Linked DNA regions of Homo sapiens. The protein of the gene in region 3 purifies or fractionates together with the protein of the main gene of each other region. This does not show direct contact. Each region holds a gene or a part of one and is shown on either strand. Other genes may lie near its edges.

What was found.
Region 1: the proteins of SLC35E2B (region 3) and RAB6A purify together in Homo sapiens (affinity purification with mass spectrometry; one large-scale study listed by BioGRID and IntAct). This does not show direct contact.
Region 2: the proteins of SLC35E2B (region 3) and ERLIN1 purify together in Homo sapiens (affinity purification with mass spectrometry; one large-scale study listed by BioGRID and IntAct). This does not show direct contact.
Region 4: the proteins of SLC35E2B (region 3) and RAB18 purify together in Homo sapiens (affinity purification with mass spectrometry; one large-scale study listed by BioGRID and IntAct). This does not show direct contact.

What each region holds. Positions count from the first base shown.
Region 1 is NC_000011.10:73,675,138-73,678,106, forward strand, and holds the end of RAB6A (ras-related protein Rab-6A), read right to left. Parts: intron 2,826-2,969; coding exon 2,761-2,825; 3' UTR 501-2,760; downstream 1-500. UniProt on the Homo sapiens protein: The small GTPases Rab are key regulators of intracellular membrane trafficking, from the formation of transport vesicles to their fusion with membranes.
Region 2 is NC_000010.11:100,165,530-100,169,029, forward strand, and holds part of ERLIN1 (erlin-1), read right to left. Parts: intron 1,878-3,500; coding exon 1,819-1,877; intron 1-1,818. UniProt on the Homo sapiens protein: Component of the ERLIN1/ERLIN2 complex which mediates the endoplasmic reticulum-associated degradation (ERAD) of inositol 1,4,5-trisphosphate receptors (IP3Rs).
Region 3 is NC_000001.11:1,679,296-1,682,795, forward strand, and holds part of SLC35E2B (solute carrier family 35 member E2B), read right to left. Parts: intron 1-3,500. UniProt on the Homo sapiens protein: Putative transporter.
Region 4 is NC_000010.11:27,531,804-27,535,303, forward strand, and holds part of RAB18 (ras-related protein Rab-18), read left to right. Parts: intron 1-703; coding exon 704-776; intron 777-1,931; coding exon 1,932-2,050; intron 2,051-2,124; coding exon 2,125-2,191; intron 2,192-3,500. UniProt on the Homo sapiens protein: The small GTPases Rab are key regulators of intracellular membrane trafficking, from the formation of transport vesicles to their fusion with membranes.

The DNA of each region.
Region 1 (2,969 bases), on a different chromosome or scaffold from region 3:
TGTCCCAAGGCAGGGGTTGCCCTTTTCTCTGTAAAGGGCCAGATAGTAAACAGTTTTTTGGGTTTTAGGGCCATAAGGTCTGTGGCAGCTATTAAGCTCTGCCATTATAGTGGGAAAGTATGGCTGAGTTCCAATAAAACTTAATTTTTAAAACTGGTTCCAGGCTGCATTTGGTGGGAGGGCCACAGTTTGCTGGCTCCTGTCCCAAGGCAAAGGTATAGTTAGGAGTGAGGACGCAAAAGCAGAACTTAAGATGCTTTTCTTAATATGTCCTATTACTGCCTCCACCAGGGGATGTATCTTTCAAGTTGCAGCCCCTCTCCCCCACCCCCCAACAATACCCCCATCAAAAAAAGAGTCTTTGACTCCCTAGGAGTTCCTCACATTTGTTGTTGTTATTTTTCTGGATTCTGTCCATGTCTGCTTTAAAGGTCTTCCCAGAGAGGGAGAAGTAAATGCTAATTCACCATCTTGGCAGGAATGGGAAACCAGGTCAATAATTGTTTTCTTTCGTGTTTTATTTATATATTTTTGGCAGCAAAATTGTGTTTATTAAAAAAAAAACCTGGACTATGAACACACTTCAATGCTTTGAAGAACTCCAAGCCAAATAAAAAGACCAATCAATATTAAAAGCAGTATAACTGGTTACTTTCTTAAAAATACATAAAAAGAATCAAATGCAACAGTGTAGGAAGACAATCACACCCATGTCAGAAGTCACAACTTCTTCCAAATAAAGAATATGACCCATCTGCCATATTGAATCAATATTTATTTCAGGACATGCCATGTCAAAATAAAACAAAGAGTCAACCCTTGCCTTTAACAATTATATTGTATTATAAAAGCACTTTACAACTCCATCCCATCTTTAAGTATAAGTTACTGGTATGTGGGCTAATGATTATCTGTAAGCATTTCTCTATTCAGATCCATAATCCAAGTGCTCTCTGAATATTACAAGGTGACAATAAGTGGGAAGTGGAGGAGGAAGAGGAAAGAGAGGGGACTAAGGTTCTCCCAGTTTAAGGTTTTGTTCCAATGAGGGGATGAGGAAGTATGAAGATATTTTTGTTGTCTTTTCATCTTTATACTGTGTTAAGTAATGCTTACAACATAAATTCAGCAGGCTTTTCCTGAGCTGTAACTCAGAAGTTTTCGTCCTGCAAACAATGTATTTACAAATGTGTTTATTAGCTTACACAGCAATCTCACAATAACTAGTAAAGATTAAAAGGGCACACTCCTAGTATATTTGTTTGCAGTGTTTTAAGGGAAATACATATTGCCATGGTGAAGCTCTAAATAGATTCAACGAAACATCTGAAGATTGAAAGTTGTTAAAAAAAAAAAAGGCAAAGAAATAAATATCACCAAAGAAAAAAGATTAATTGTAGCTTAAATATAAAACTAAATCACCAGTTAATTAAACTATACAGATCTAATACAAACCAAAACCAGCCTGAAAGACCCAACCTTAAAAAATGCTAAAAAATAAGGCATAAATCTGCATAATATTGAGTTTTATTTCCATTCTCTCCTTTCCCTCTACTATGTATGCTTTACCTGATCTGCCTCTAGGGGCTTACAAGAAAACGGTTTCCGGTTTCCGTCTTCAATTTGACCTCAAATGTCCTGAGCAAAGTTTTTGTTATTCTGCTGAGGGTTCTTTTGTTGGTAAGCTTTAGACATCATTATTTCTACTAATTCAGTAGTTTTGATCGTAGCGCCAAATTTAAATTCTTCCACTGGTTCTTCTGGAAGGAATTAAAACTTTTACAGTGCCTTGCCTGCACAGTATTATGTTTTTAAAAAAGAAAACCCAAGCAAAATCTATTGCTTAAAGAGGTTTCTTATTTTTTAAACAAACAGAATAACTCTTGACAATTTTAAAACCTTGGGAGAAACAGTTCATTAGAACTTCATTTTCTTACCGTGAAGAATTAAATACTAAAAACCTGTTCTGAAGCACTTGGTTAATTTTCTCTCCCAGAGTCTAATAAAGCACATGTGAAAGAGCCATTTGTTTTAGTCAGAAATACATCTTATGTTCTTCTACTTCTAAGTACTCAGTATGTTCTTTAGGACTCATTTTGAAGATGCACCAGGAGCCTTTTCTCATTCAAGCACTGCCTACCATGATGGCTGAATTTTGACCTCAAAGAAGACCGTAATTTATATCAGTGCTCAAGAATAATTTTGGACATCTTGGTCCGTAGCCTACAGCAAGTGGTATCTGTAAAATTAAAGGATAATTCCAATGGGCTTGGTAGAACTGCTGCTTTGCCATCTCTTGTTTGTTTTGAGGAAGTCGGGGGAGGCTAGGTAAGAATAGGGTAATAGGGAATGGGGGTAAGTGAGAGGTGAGAAAAGCAAGGAGAGATAAAGTAGGCTGTGAACATACCGCTCGTTAACCAAGCCATACTCATACTGTTGAGATTTCCATCATTTTGAAGTACATTATCATAACATTAAAAAAGAAAAAAATGTTAAGAAAATGTATCTAATTTTTAAAGTTATCACTGGAATATGCTGAAATATTTTGGCTTTTTGTAAAATATAAATAATGAAGACACTGACTTTTGTTGTGCTTGTGAAGCTAATAGATCATCTCCACGAGACAGGCAGCAATGATGAATTGCAATACGTTATTACTGAAGGGAAAAGGTTCAAGCCAATATTCACACTGCAGTCAATGAAAGAGTAAGGGGGCCAAAGCAGTGAGCTTCTGAAGAAGGTTGAAGATGACATGGGAGATTAGCAGGAACAGCCTCCTTCACTGACTGGTTGCTCCTGAGGCTTTTCCAGTTTTATGTCAATCACTGAAACAAAAGTTAAGAAGCCATAAATGGGAAAGTACAATTTCAATTCTTCCAAACACTAGCATTTCTGGGATGGCCCTTATATTCCTATCTGTCTTCAGAGCCTACACACTCACTATTTTCTACATAGCCGCCTCACCATAT
Region 2 (3,500 bases), on a different chromosome or scaffold from region 3:
GCGCCCACCACCATGCCTGGCTAATTTTTTGTATTTTTAGTAGAGACGGGGTTTCATTGTGTTAGCTAGGATGGTCTCGATCTCCTGACCTCGTGATCCGCCCACCTTGGCCTCCCAAAAGTGCTGGGATTACAGGCATGAGCCACCGCACCCAGCCTAAGCAATCATATTTAAAGCCTAAGACATGCTGACAGTTTAATAAAATTTTCTTTTTGAGACAGAGTTTCGTTCTTTTGCCCAGGTTGGAGTGCAATGGCGTGGTCTCGGCTCACTGCAACCTCTACCTCCCCGGTTGAAGCGACTCTCCTACCTCAGCCTCCCCAGTAGCTGGGATTATAGGTGCCTGCCACCATGTCCAGCTAATTTTTCTATTTTTACTGGAGACAGGGTTTCACCATGTTGGCCAGGCTGGTCTCAAACTCTTGAACTCAGGTGATCCGCCGGCCTCAGCCTCCTGAAGTGCTATGATTATAGGCATAAGCCACCACAGCCCGCCTATAAATATTTTTTCAATAAGTGGATCACATCCATAATCTACCCAGCCTGGCAGTCTACATTTTATACTTTTAAAAGAAGAGTTCTTTGTCTACAATGAAAAAGAGAAAACAGGCTGGGTGTGGTGACTCAAGCCTGTAATCCCAGTACTTTGGGAGGCCAAGGCAGGAGGACTGCTTGAGCCCAGGAGTTTGAGACCAGGCTGGGCAACAGGGCAAAACTCCGTCTCTATGAAAAATACAAAATTTAGCTAGGTGTGGTGGCATGCACTGGTAGTCCCAACTACTCAGGAGGCTGAGGTGGGAGGATCGCTTAATCACTTGAGCCTGGGAGGTTGAGACTGCAGTGAGCCGTGATTGTGCCACTGCACTGCAGTCTGGGCAACAGAGCAAGACCTTGTCTCAAAAAAAAAAAAATTAAGAAAAAGAGAAATAAAACTCTGTATGAGCTCAGAGAAGGTATGAGGGAAAAGGAAAATATAAAAGAAGAAAAAAACAATAAAAATCTGCATGGTAACAAAAAGGACTCAGAAGTAAACAACCTCATAAAGTAGTATTACTGCTCCTTGGACTTCCAGTATTTATACATCTGTGGTATCCTTGACTTGTGCAAATTTATTTTTCCAGCGTCTTATACTTTCCCTTTTAACACATCAGCCAAATTTCCTAAAGACTTTTATTTCTTCTTTTCAGTACCAGTCATACGAAAACAATATTGCCATTTCAAACACAGTAAGTATTCCCCTAAAAGGGATCCTGTCAGAAACTAATTTCATGTCTTCTCATTCCCAGTCAGCCCTGGATACATAAAAGAGAAGACTACCAGGAGTCAACAGAAGCAAGGCTTCCCTAGAGGCACATTATAAAGAACCAGGTCTAATTTTAGATATACAATCACATACAATGGAAAACCAAACTTTATACCAACAAGGTATCTATTCCTACCATTACAACACAGAAACAAAATATGAGCACTCTCTTCAACCCTAACGGCTTCAGGACTCTTTCCTCTATTAAATATTTAATTCAAGGTACTATTCATATAAAATTATAGCTCCTTAAGCTTCCAGCAATAGTTTTACAGCAAACTGCATCTTTAGCCACTGAAACTGCTCCTGAAATGTCCATACATAAAGAGAACACTAGTAAGAGTCTAGTGGGAATTAAGACACAAGAATAGGCAATATTACTAGAGTAAGAGTAAAGAAGATAAGACACATACTCCACCCCAGAGTGTATTGTCTCACATGTTTCCTCTAGACTGGAATATTAATATGCAGACAGCCCTAAACAGAAATATTGGGATCCCATGCATATTACTCACATTAACTCAAAATTTCTTCTTATGGCTTCTGGGATTTTGGGTTTTGTAACACGCACAGCCTAAAAAATAAAAGTGAAAAAGCCAAAGTATATTTGAAAGATAAATCTTCAAATTAAATCTTCTACAGAAAAGCCCCTCAAATGATACTAATCTAATAAACAACAGCTATAATATAGCGGCCTACTAACACGTTTGGGGATCCCACCAGAACATTTACTTTTCATGCCATCACACCAAGAATCAAAGACAAGCTGCTTCTTATTTCCTTACACAATGCCAGATTACAGGAAAAACCATCTACCCACTGAGGAAACAACTGCCTTATGAAAAAGGTTCTCACTTAAAAGATGTTTTACAAAGGTCGTTAGATACTTTTGCTTTCTTTTTCAACCCTGTAAACCAAAGAAGCCGGGAAGGCAAAGTTCCAAGACTGAAATTGTAAAGTCAGAAACAATTAGTCAAATACAAAAACAAACAAAAAAACCCAGGTTGGTGTATACAATTTAATACAGTGAGTAGTGAGTAAATTAATCTATCACTTCCAACCCCTGCAATCACTTGGTATTTGCTGTAAGTAAACAGCCCACTGGCTGAAGGAAAACAAATATCAATTAAAAGCTTATATTCTTTCTTCCTTAACTCTCACTTAGAACAAAGTCTGTCTTTGTAGAGGCTGTTTACCAGACACTTTGTTTCCCTAATCATAGTGTTCTTTGACACAATTAAGATTATCTACCTGGACAGTACTGTTTTTTGAAGGCTGACTTTTCTACATCAAGGACTTGATCTCTCAAAAGCTTTTGATTTTACTAAACATACGATACCCCGCCGCCCCACCTATACTGCAAACACACACAAAAAACACTTTGCTGGTCTGAAGAAGTTTTCCTTCTGAAAACTGGCTAACCTTTTAAGAATAACAAAGCCTTTAAGCACTTAGTCTTCTTTAAAGGCTTTTAAAACTTTTAAGCGATATAGCATTTCCTATATGAAATAGATGAGTCAAATTTGTAGGTAATTTTGAGGACAATCATAACTAAATATAAGGATTACAGTGGAATGGAATAAGCAGCTGAAGGCTGTGTGGAAAAAACTCACAACACACTGGCAGTGACACATGTGAGGCCTCACAACTCAGTGGAGACATGCAGAAGACAAATAAAAATTCAGGACCAGATTTTGTGAGATGTCAGATTTCACCATGTGACTAGCAGACATAAGATTACTTCCAATATGGATTAATATGATTCAAGGAAGCACTGTCATACTGCATTTAATTAAGAGACTGGCCACATATCTTTTTAGCCTTATTAAAAGAAGCGTAAAGTAGGACTTTTTTTTTTTTTTTTGAGATGGAGTTTTGCTCTTGTTACCCAGGCTGGAGTGCGGTGGTGCAATCTCAGTTCACTGCAACCTCCGCCTCCCAGGTTCAAGCGATTCTTCTGCCTCAGCCTCCTTAGTTGCTGGGATTACAGGCATGCGCCACCAAGCCCGACTAATTTTTGTATTGTTTTTTAGTAGAGACAGGGTTTCACTGTGTTGGTCAAGCTGGTCTCGAACTCCTGAACTCAGGTGATCCAACCACCTCGGCCTCCCAAAGTGCTGGGATTACAGGCGTGAGCCACCACACTCGGCCAGGACTGTCTTTTGAAGACTCCTATTTTGCTGAATGAGGCTGAAGA
Region 3 (3,500 bases):
CTTGCCAGAACAGTCTGTCCACTTAGCTTCCCTCTGAGAAACTCACAGCATCCCAGGCAAAACTGCTCCCCGCAATGAGGACCCCCATTCCCCTTCTCTGCTGACACTGTGCTCCAAGAAGCCTGTGGGACCCACACAAGCAGCCCAGTCCCCACCCTAATGTTTGCTCACAATTAGTGGAAACAAAAAAACAGAAATCACACTTCACTGACGCTGCCGTTCTCTGTACATCAAGAACTTAAGGTTCTGGGCCAGGCGCCGTGGCTCACACCTGGAATCCCAGCACTTTGGGAGGCCAAGGTGGGCGGATCACCTGAGCTCAGGAGTTCATGACCAGCCTGGCAAACACAGCAAAACCCCGTCTCTACTAAAAGTACAAAAAAAAAATCAGCCGGGTGTGGTGGCTGGCACCTGTAATCCCAGCTACTCGGGAGGCTGAGGCAGGAGAATCACTTGAACCTGGAAGGCAGAGCTTGCAGTGAGCTGAGATCGCGCCATTGCACCCCAGCCTGAGCAACAGAGCGAGACTCCCGTCAAAAAAAAAAAAAAAAAAAATGCTGGGCGCGATGGCTCACACCTGTAATCCCAGCACTTTGGGAGGCCGAGGAGGGTGGATCATGAGGTCAGGAGTTCAAGACCAGCCTGACCAACGTGGAGAAACCCCGTCTCTACTAAAAATACAAAATTAGCCGGGCGTAGTGGATGCCTGTAATCCCAGCTACTCAGGAGGCTGAGGCAGGAGAATCGCTTGAACCCGGGAGGCGGAGGTTGCGGTGAGCCGAGATCACACCGTTGTACTCCAGCCTGGGCAACAAGAGTGAAACTCCGTCTCAAAAAAAAAAAATTTTTTTTTAATGTAGCCGGGCATGGTGGTGCATGTCTGTAGTCCTAACTACTTAGGAGGCTGGGGTGGGAGGATTGCTTGAACAAGAGAGGTCAAGGCTGCAGTGAGCCGTGATTGTGCCACTGAACTCCAGCCTGGGCAACAGAGCAAGACCCTGACTCTAAAAATTAAAAAAAAGTTAAAAAAAATTAAAAGAGCTTAAACAAGAAGCCGACTGCAAACAAAGGCCTCTCCATGCAGCTGCGCTGGGACGCGGGTTCTCTGTCCGATCACTGCACAGCAGCCCACTGGACAAATGGACCCATTCTGGCAAGAAGCACTTGGGACGGGCTACTAGGAGCATCCTCGTCTGTGTCTACGTGCAGGAGTGGAACTGCCCAGCCCTGGGACACGCATGCTGAGCCCCAGCCAACGTCACACCGACCTGTGCTCCCACAGCCCTGCCCCGGCTCTGTGTGGGTGACTGTCCCGTCCCTGCAGTTGAGCCCACGTGGTCCCGGGGTCTCCATTCCCCTCCCAATCTGCAGGACTTCACTACCATGAACCGTCCTCACCCCCAGCATCCCTGTCCCCACAGCTCCAAGGCCGCAGGAGGAGGCGATATCTAATCTTCCCCCCACGTAAACACCTGTCCCTGCGTAAATGCCTGAGGCTGGCTGCTTATTCTTTTTTTTTTTTTTTTAGATGGAATCTCGATCTGTCGCCCAGGCTGGAGTTTAGTGGCATAATCTCGGCTCACTGCAACCTCCACCTCCCAGGTTCAAGGGATTCTCCTGCCTCAGCCTCCCGAGTAACTGGGATTACAGGCGCCTGCCACCACGCCCAGCCGCTTCTTATTCAAACACTGGGAGCTCCACGTCAGACCAGTGAAGTCAGAGAATCCTGAAGTCCAAGTTCTCAGCTCCTCAGCCAACTCAAGGGCAGCCAGGCAGGAGCCACCCCTGCAGAGGCACCCACGGTTCGTTCCTGTCACTGACTGTTCCCAGGCTGGAAATTCCTGACGGTACAAATGCAAACAGATTCCGGCCTGAAACTGTCTAGTGAGACCTTTCTTTCCTTTTCCTTTTCTTTTTTTCGAGATAGAGTCTCGCTCTGTCAGCCAGACTGGAGTGCAATGGCATGATCTTGGCTCACTGCAAGCTCTGCCTCCTGGGTTCACACCATTCTCCTGCCTCAGCCTCTGAAGTAGCTGGGACTACAGGCGCCCGCCACCACGCCTGGCTAATTTTGTTTTTTTTTGTATTTTTTTAGTAGAGACAGGGTTTCACCATGTTACCCAGGATGGTCTCGATCTCCTGACCTCGTGATCCACCCACCTAGGCCTCCCAAAGTGCTGGGACTACAGGCGTGAGCCACCGCGCCCGGCCTCTTTTCTTTTCTTTTTTGAGAGGGACTCTTACTCTGTCGCCCAGGCTAGAGTGCAGTGGCACAATCTCAGCTCACCGTAGCCCCCACTTCTTGGATTCAAGGGATTCGCATGCCTCAGCCTCTCGGGCAGCTGGAATTATAGGCATGCGCCACCAAGCCTGGCTAATTTTTGTACTTTTAGAAGAGATAGGATTTAGGCCGGGCGTGGTGGCTCACGCCTGTAATCCCAGCACTTTGGGAGGCTGAGGCAGAGGGATCCCGAGGTCAGGAGATGGAGACTATCCTGACTAACACTGTGAAATTCTGTCTCTACTAAAAATACAAAAAATTAGCCAGGCGTGGTGGCGGGCGCCTGTAGTCCCAGCTACTCAGGAGGCTGAGGCAGGAGAACGGTGTGAACCCGGGAGGTGGAGCTTGCAGCGAGCCGAGATCGCGCCACTGCACTCACTCCAGCCTGGGCGACAGAGCAACACTCTGTCTCAAAAAAAAAAAAAAAAAAAAAAAAAAAAAAAAAAAAAAAAAAAAAAAAAAAAGAAGAGACAGGGTTTCACCATGTTGCCCAGGTTGGTCTCAATCTCCTGACCTCATGTGATTCGCCCGCCTTGGCCTCCCATAGAACTGGGATTACAGGCATGAGTGACCGTGCCCGGCTGGGTGCAACCTTTCAGAGGTCATGCGGGTGACAGGGAGCGACAAAAAACAAGAAAATAAAGCACTTCGCCGAGGCTGACTTGGGTCACAGAGGGCCAAACGGTCCCGGGAAAATGGGTGGGCTCTTCACACCTTCTCATAGAAGTCTTGGAGGTGGGTGTTTAATGAGCATTTTTTGTTAGTAGCAAAACAAGACAAAGCAAACACCAAAAGAATGCCAACCTACGTGCCTGTCAACAGTAGAAACAAACACCTTATTGATGGAGCTGAAGCTACGATGGAAATGAGGGGCTCAGTCCCAGTGTCAAAGGGACGGACCCCAAGCCCAAACCCACCGGAGCGGGGGAAGACTGAGGGACGAATCACAGACAGAAACGCACGACTCGGCTCCACCATGCGCTGTCAGCTGTGCGGGAAGCACCACGTGTAGAAATAAAAGCATGAAAGTGCCTGAAAGAGGGAATTCCAGCACGTGCTCCTCTCATCTCGGGGACGGGCCCCAGGGGAAAGCAACAGCACCTTCAGGTGCTGGAACCCAGCTGAGCAGCCAGGGGGTTCCGGGGTCCTCCCTAAGTAGTTGTGAGAGATCACAGCCCGGGGTCCTTCCTAAGTAGTTCCGAGAGTTCAAGGTTTACAT
Region 4 (3,500 bases), on a different chromosome or scaffold from region 3:
CAACAAATTCTGAGCAACTGCCTTTTTTCAAGAATTGGTCTCAGCACAATGGTTAAACTGGTGATTAAACAGATGAGTCCCTGCTTTATGAAATTTACATTTTCTACCTAGTGTACATTGTTCACTAACCCTAACATGAGTCAGAAATAACATGTAATAAAGAATGGCTTGGTTATATGCATTTTCTCAAAAGGAGATACATAGAAAACACTTAAAAGAGCCCAACCTAAAAATCTGTTACCTAAAGTAAGACATCCCATAATTTTCTTCAAATCAGTGGTTCTCAGCCTTGATTCTACATTAAAAGCACCTGGTAAGATTTAAAAAAAAAAAAATTCCTGTCATTACCTTAGACCAATTAAGCAGAAATTTTTTGGAAGCTAGACTCAAGATTCCCAGAAAATTTCATTGTGCAGCTGGAGTTTAGAACCATGGGTTTCATTTCATGTATGATAAAAGTCTTAAATTCAAAACAGCAGAAAACCTTTACATAGTTTCATTTTTCTAGAGATCAGTATTTATAAATAATTTTATTTTGTGACACTTGTCAGTAAGCGAACACATCTTATTTAAGTTCCAGTTTTTTAATGAGCTCATGCATTAATACTATTTTTAGTAATGCTGTTTGACTTTCTACTCTTAAACTAGTATATTGAAGGTCTATTTATACTTTGTTTAATTTAATAATAATGATCATTTTTAGGATACTGCTGGTCAAGAGAGGTTTAGAACATTAACTCCCAGCTATTATAGAGGTGCACAGGGTGTTATATTAGGTAAGTGTTTACTTTAATGTACTATTTAAAAATATTTATTGGAGTTTCTGATTGTCCTAGTCTGTGAAAGTTAATATGTCTTTGTTTTACTTCTCGTTAGAGCTACTTTTATGTAACTTGTAGTTGTATTAACTTCATGTAATATTAATGAATATTAAAACTTTTGATTTTAGTCTTGTCTAGCACTTAAAAAATAGACAAGGCTAATTTATTTGGTTTGAAAACACATGTCAATGAGAACGTAATTGAGGATTAATCAGCATATGTTGGACTGTCTTGGAGTATTACAGAAACTGGGCTTCTGTTATCAGCATATTAATATTTGCTGTAGTTTATAAAGGACGAAAAGTATTTGTTGATTAGTAGAATCTGCTTTATTAGTCCTAAAAATATCACAAAGCACTTAACACTATTGATTTATAATCAAACAAAATTTAGAAACCAGATGTGGATTCTCAGTGTAATTTGTTGAAAAGTGCTTGTTCTTGATATTCCTGGGAAACTGTTTAAAATGAATATTGATCAATTGTATTAATAGGTAGAATTCTCTTTTTTTAAATATTATGGCTTGGTAGTGACAGCCTTTTGGTTCAGCATCTCTTGAGTTTATAAAACACTTTAATAAGGTTTTTGTTATAATGCAGAATGACATAAGATGAAAGTGATAACAGGAAGACCACCAGGAACCCATCTACTAACTGTACTACAATTTTTTCAAAGCTGTAAATTTTGGTTCTTGTAATAAACAAATTAATGGGGTCATAGATGTTTACATTCATGTATTTTTTTTTTAATATTTTGCCACAGATTTGAATCTAAACACTCTGGTTTTTGGATAGACCTCATTCATCATTATGAATGGGAATAGCTGTTGTTTTGCTTTAATGGGTATTAAATGTGTTTTCACTTATTACACAGGATATAATTTCATTTCTGTGACAGTATATGTTAATAGGATTGAAATGTGTATGCTTTAAAAAAAAAACACTTGTTTCTTCCATTTGGATCAGTAGACACTCAATATTAATCGTTGAAGACAATAAAAAAAAGACTTGTCTATATTGCTTAGTAATGCTAACTCCTAGCTACATATCAGAAATACGCCATTGCTTCTTTCTTTAATGCTTATTTAACAAATGACTCCTTTTATTTCAGTTTATGATGTCACAAGAAGAGATACATTTGTTAAACTGGATAATTGGTTAAATGAATTGGAAACATACTGTACAAGAAATGACATAGTAAACATGCTAGTTGGAAATAAAATCGATAAGGTAAGAAGGCAGACACTTGGCATTTTGGTTCTATATTTTGGTAGCCTTTCTTAATCATTGCATTTATATTTTAGGAAAATCGTGAAGTCGATAGAAATGAAGGCCTGAAATTTGCACGAAAGCATTCCATGTTATTTATAGGTAGGTGTGTGAATGAATATCTGTCCTTTCATTATTAATGAGGAATTTTTGAATGGAGTTTTTGCCAAGTTTATTTCTTTATGAACCATAAAATGTGTTTAGAGTATTGTTCCTAGTTGCCTTGTGTTACAAAATCTAACTATATAACAAGGTTCTTTATTCTTCTTCCTGTAAAATGTATGATCATATTATGTGAAATCATATTAAAAAACAGTCAAATCATTCCTCACAGGATATAGTGGCATTCAGTAAAGTTTGGCACCCAGTGCTAAAGTTATGCCTTGCTGGTCCATATGCTGATACCATCAGCACCACCTGGGAGCTTGTTAGCAGTGCTTCAGCTCAGGCCCTACCCCAGATTTTCTGAATTAGAATCTGCATTTTAACAAGCTCTTCATATGGTTTGTATGCACATTAATTTTTGAGAAACATGGTCCAGCAAGAGTTGCCAAACTACAGCCTGGTCCAAATCTGGCCCCACCATTTGTATTGGTACACAGCCATGTCCATGTGTTTACATGTTGTCTGTAGCTGCTTTTGTGCCATATGGCAGAGTTTAGTAGTTACAACAGAGGCCATACGGCCCACGAAGCCTAAATATTTTCTATCTGGCCCTTTACAGAAAGAGTTTGCCAACCCCTCATCTAGAAAATTGGATGAGCTATGTCAGAATCACCTGGGCCCTGTGCCTTATTACAGGTTTGAAAGGCAGTTTATTGAAAGCACTCTAGTTGATTCTGATGTGAAGCCAGCTTTAGGAATTACGGATTTAACCATTCCATGGCGTTAGAAGCTACCAGGAATCTGCAAATGAAGTTGAGAGGACTTCATATATAGATAAAAACAGAATGGAATTAGTGGAAAGTATTGAGATTTTCAGAAAGGAATCGAGTACTTTTACTTGCTGTATGTCCCTCATTTCCATACATTAGTTTACCCAATATTTATTGAACACTCAAGATGTAACAGTGGACAAAACTGACAAACTTTCTGCCCACATGGAGCTTACATTCTAGTAAGGGAGACAGACTTAAATAAGTAAGTAGTGCTATGAAGGAAATAAAACATTATAAGGGGAGAGAGAATGACTGGAGTGGGGACTGCTTAGGGAAAGTTCTTAGAGGCTGTCCCATTTGAGCAGAAATCCCTCAGGTGAGGATCTAGAGCAAGCTTGTCCAACTCATGGGCTGCATGTGGCCCAGGATGGCTTTGAATGTGGCCCAACACAAATTTGTAAACTTCCTTAAAACATTATGAGATTTTGTGCTTTTTTTTAAGTTCCAGCTATCATTAGTGTTATTGTATGTTA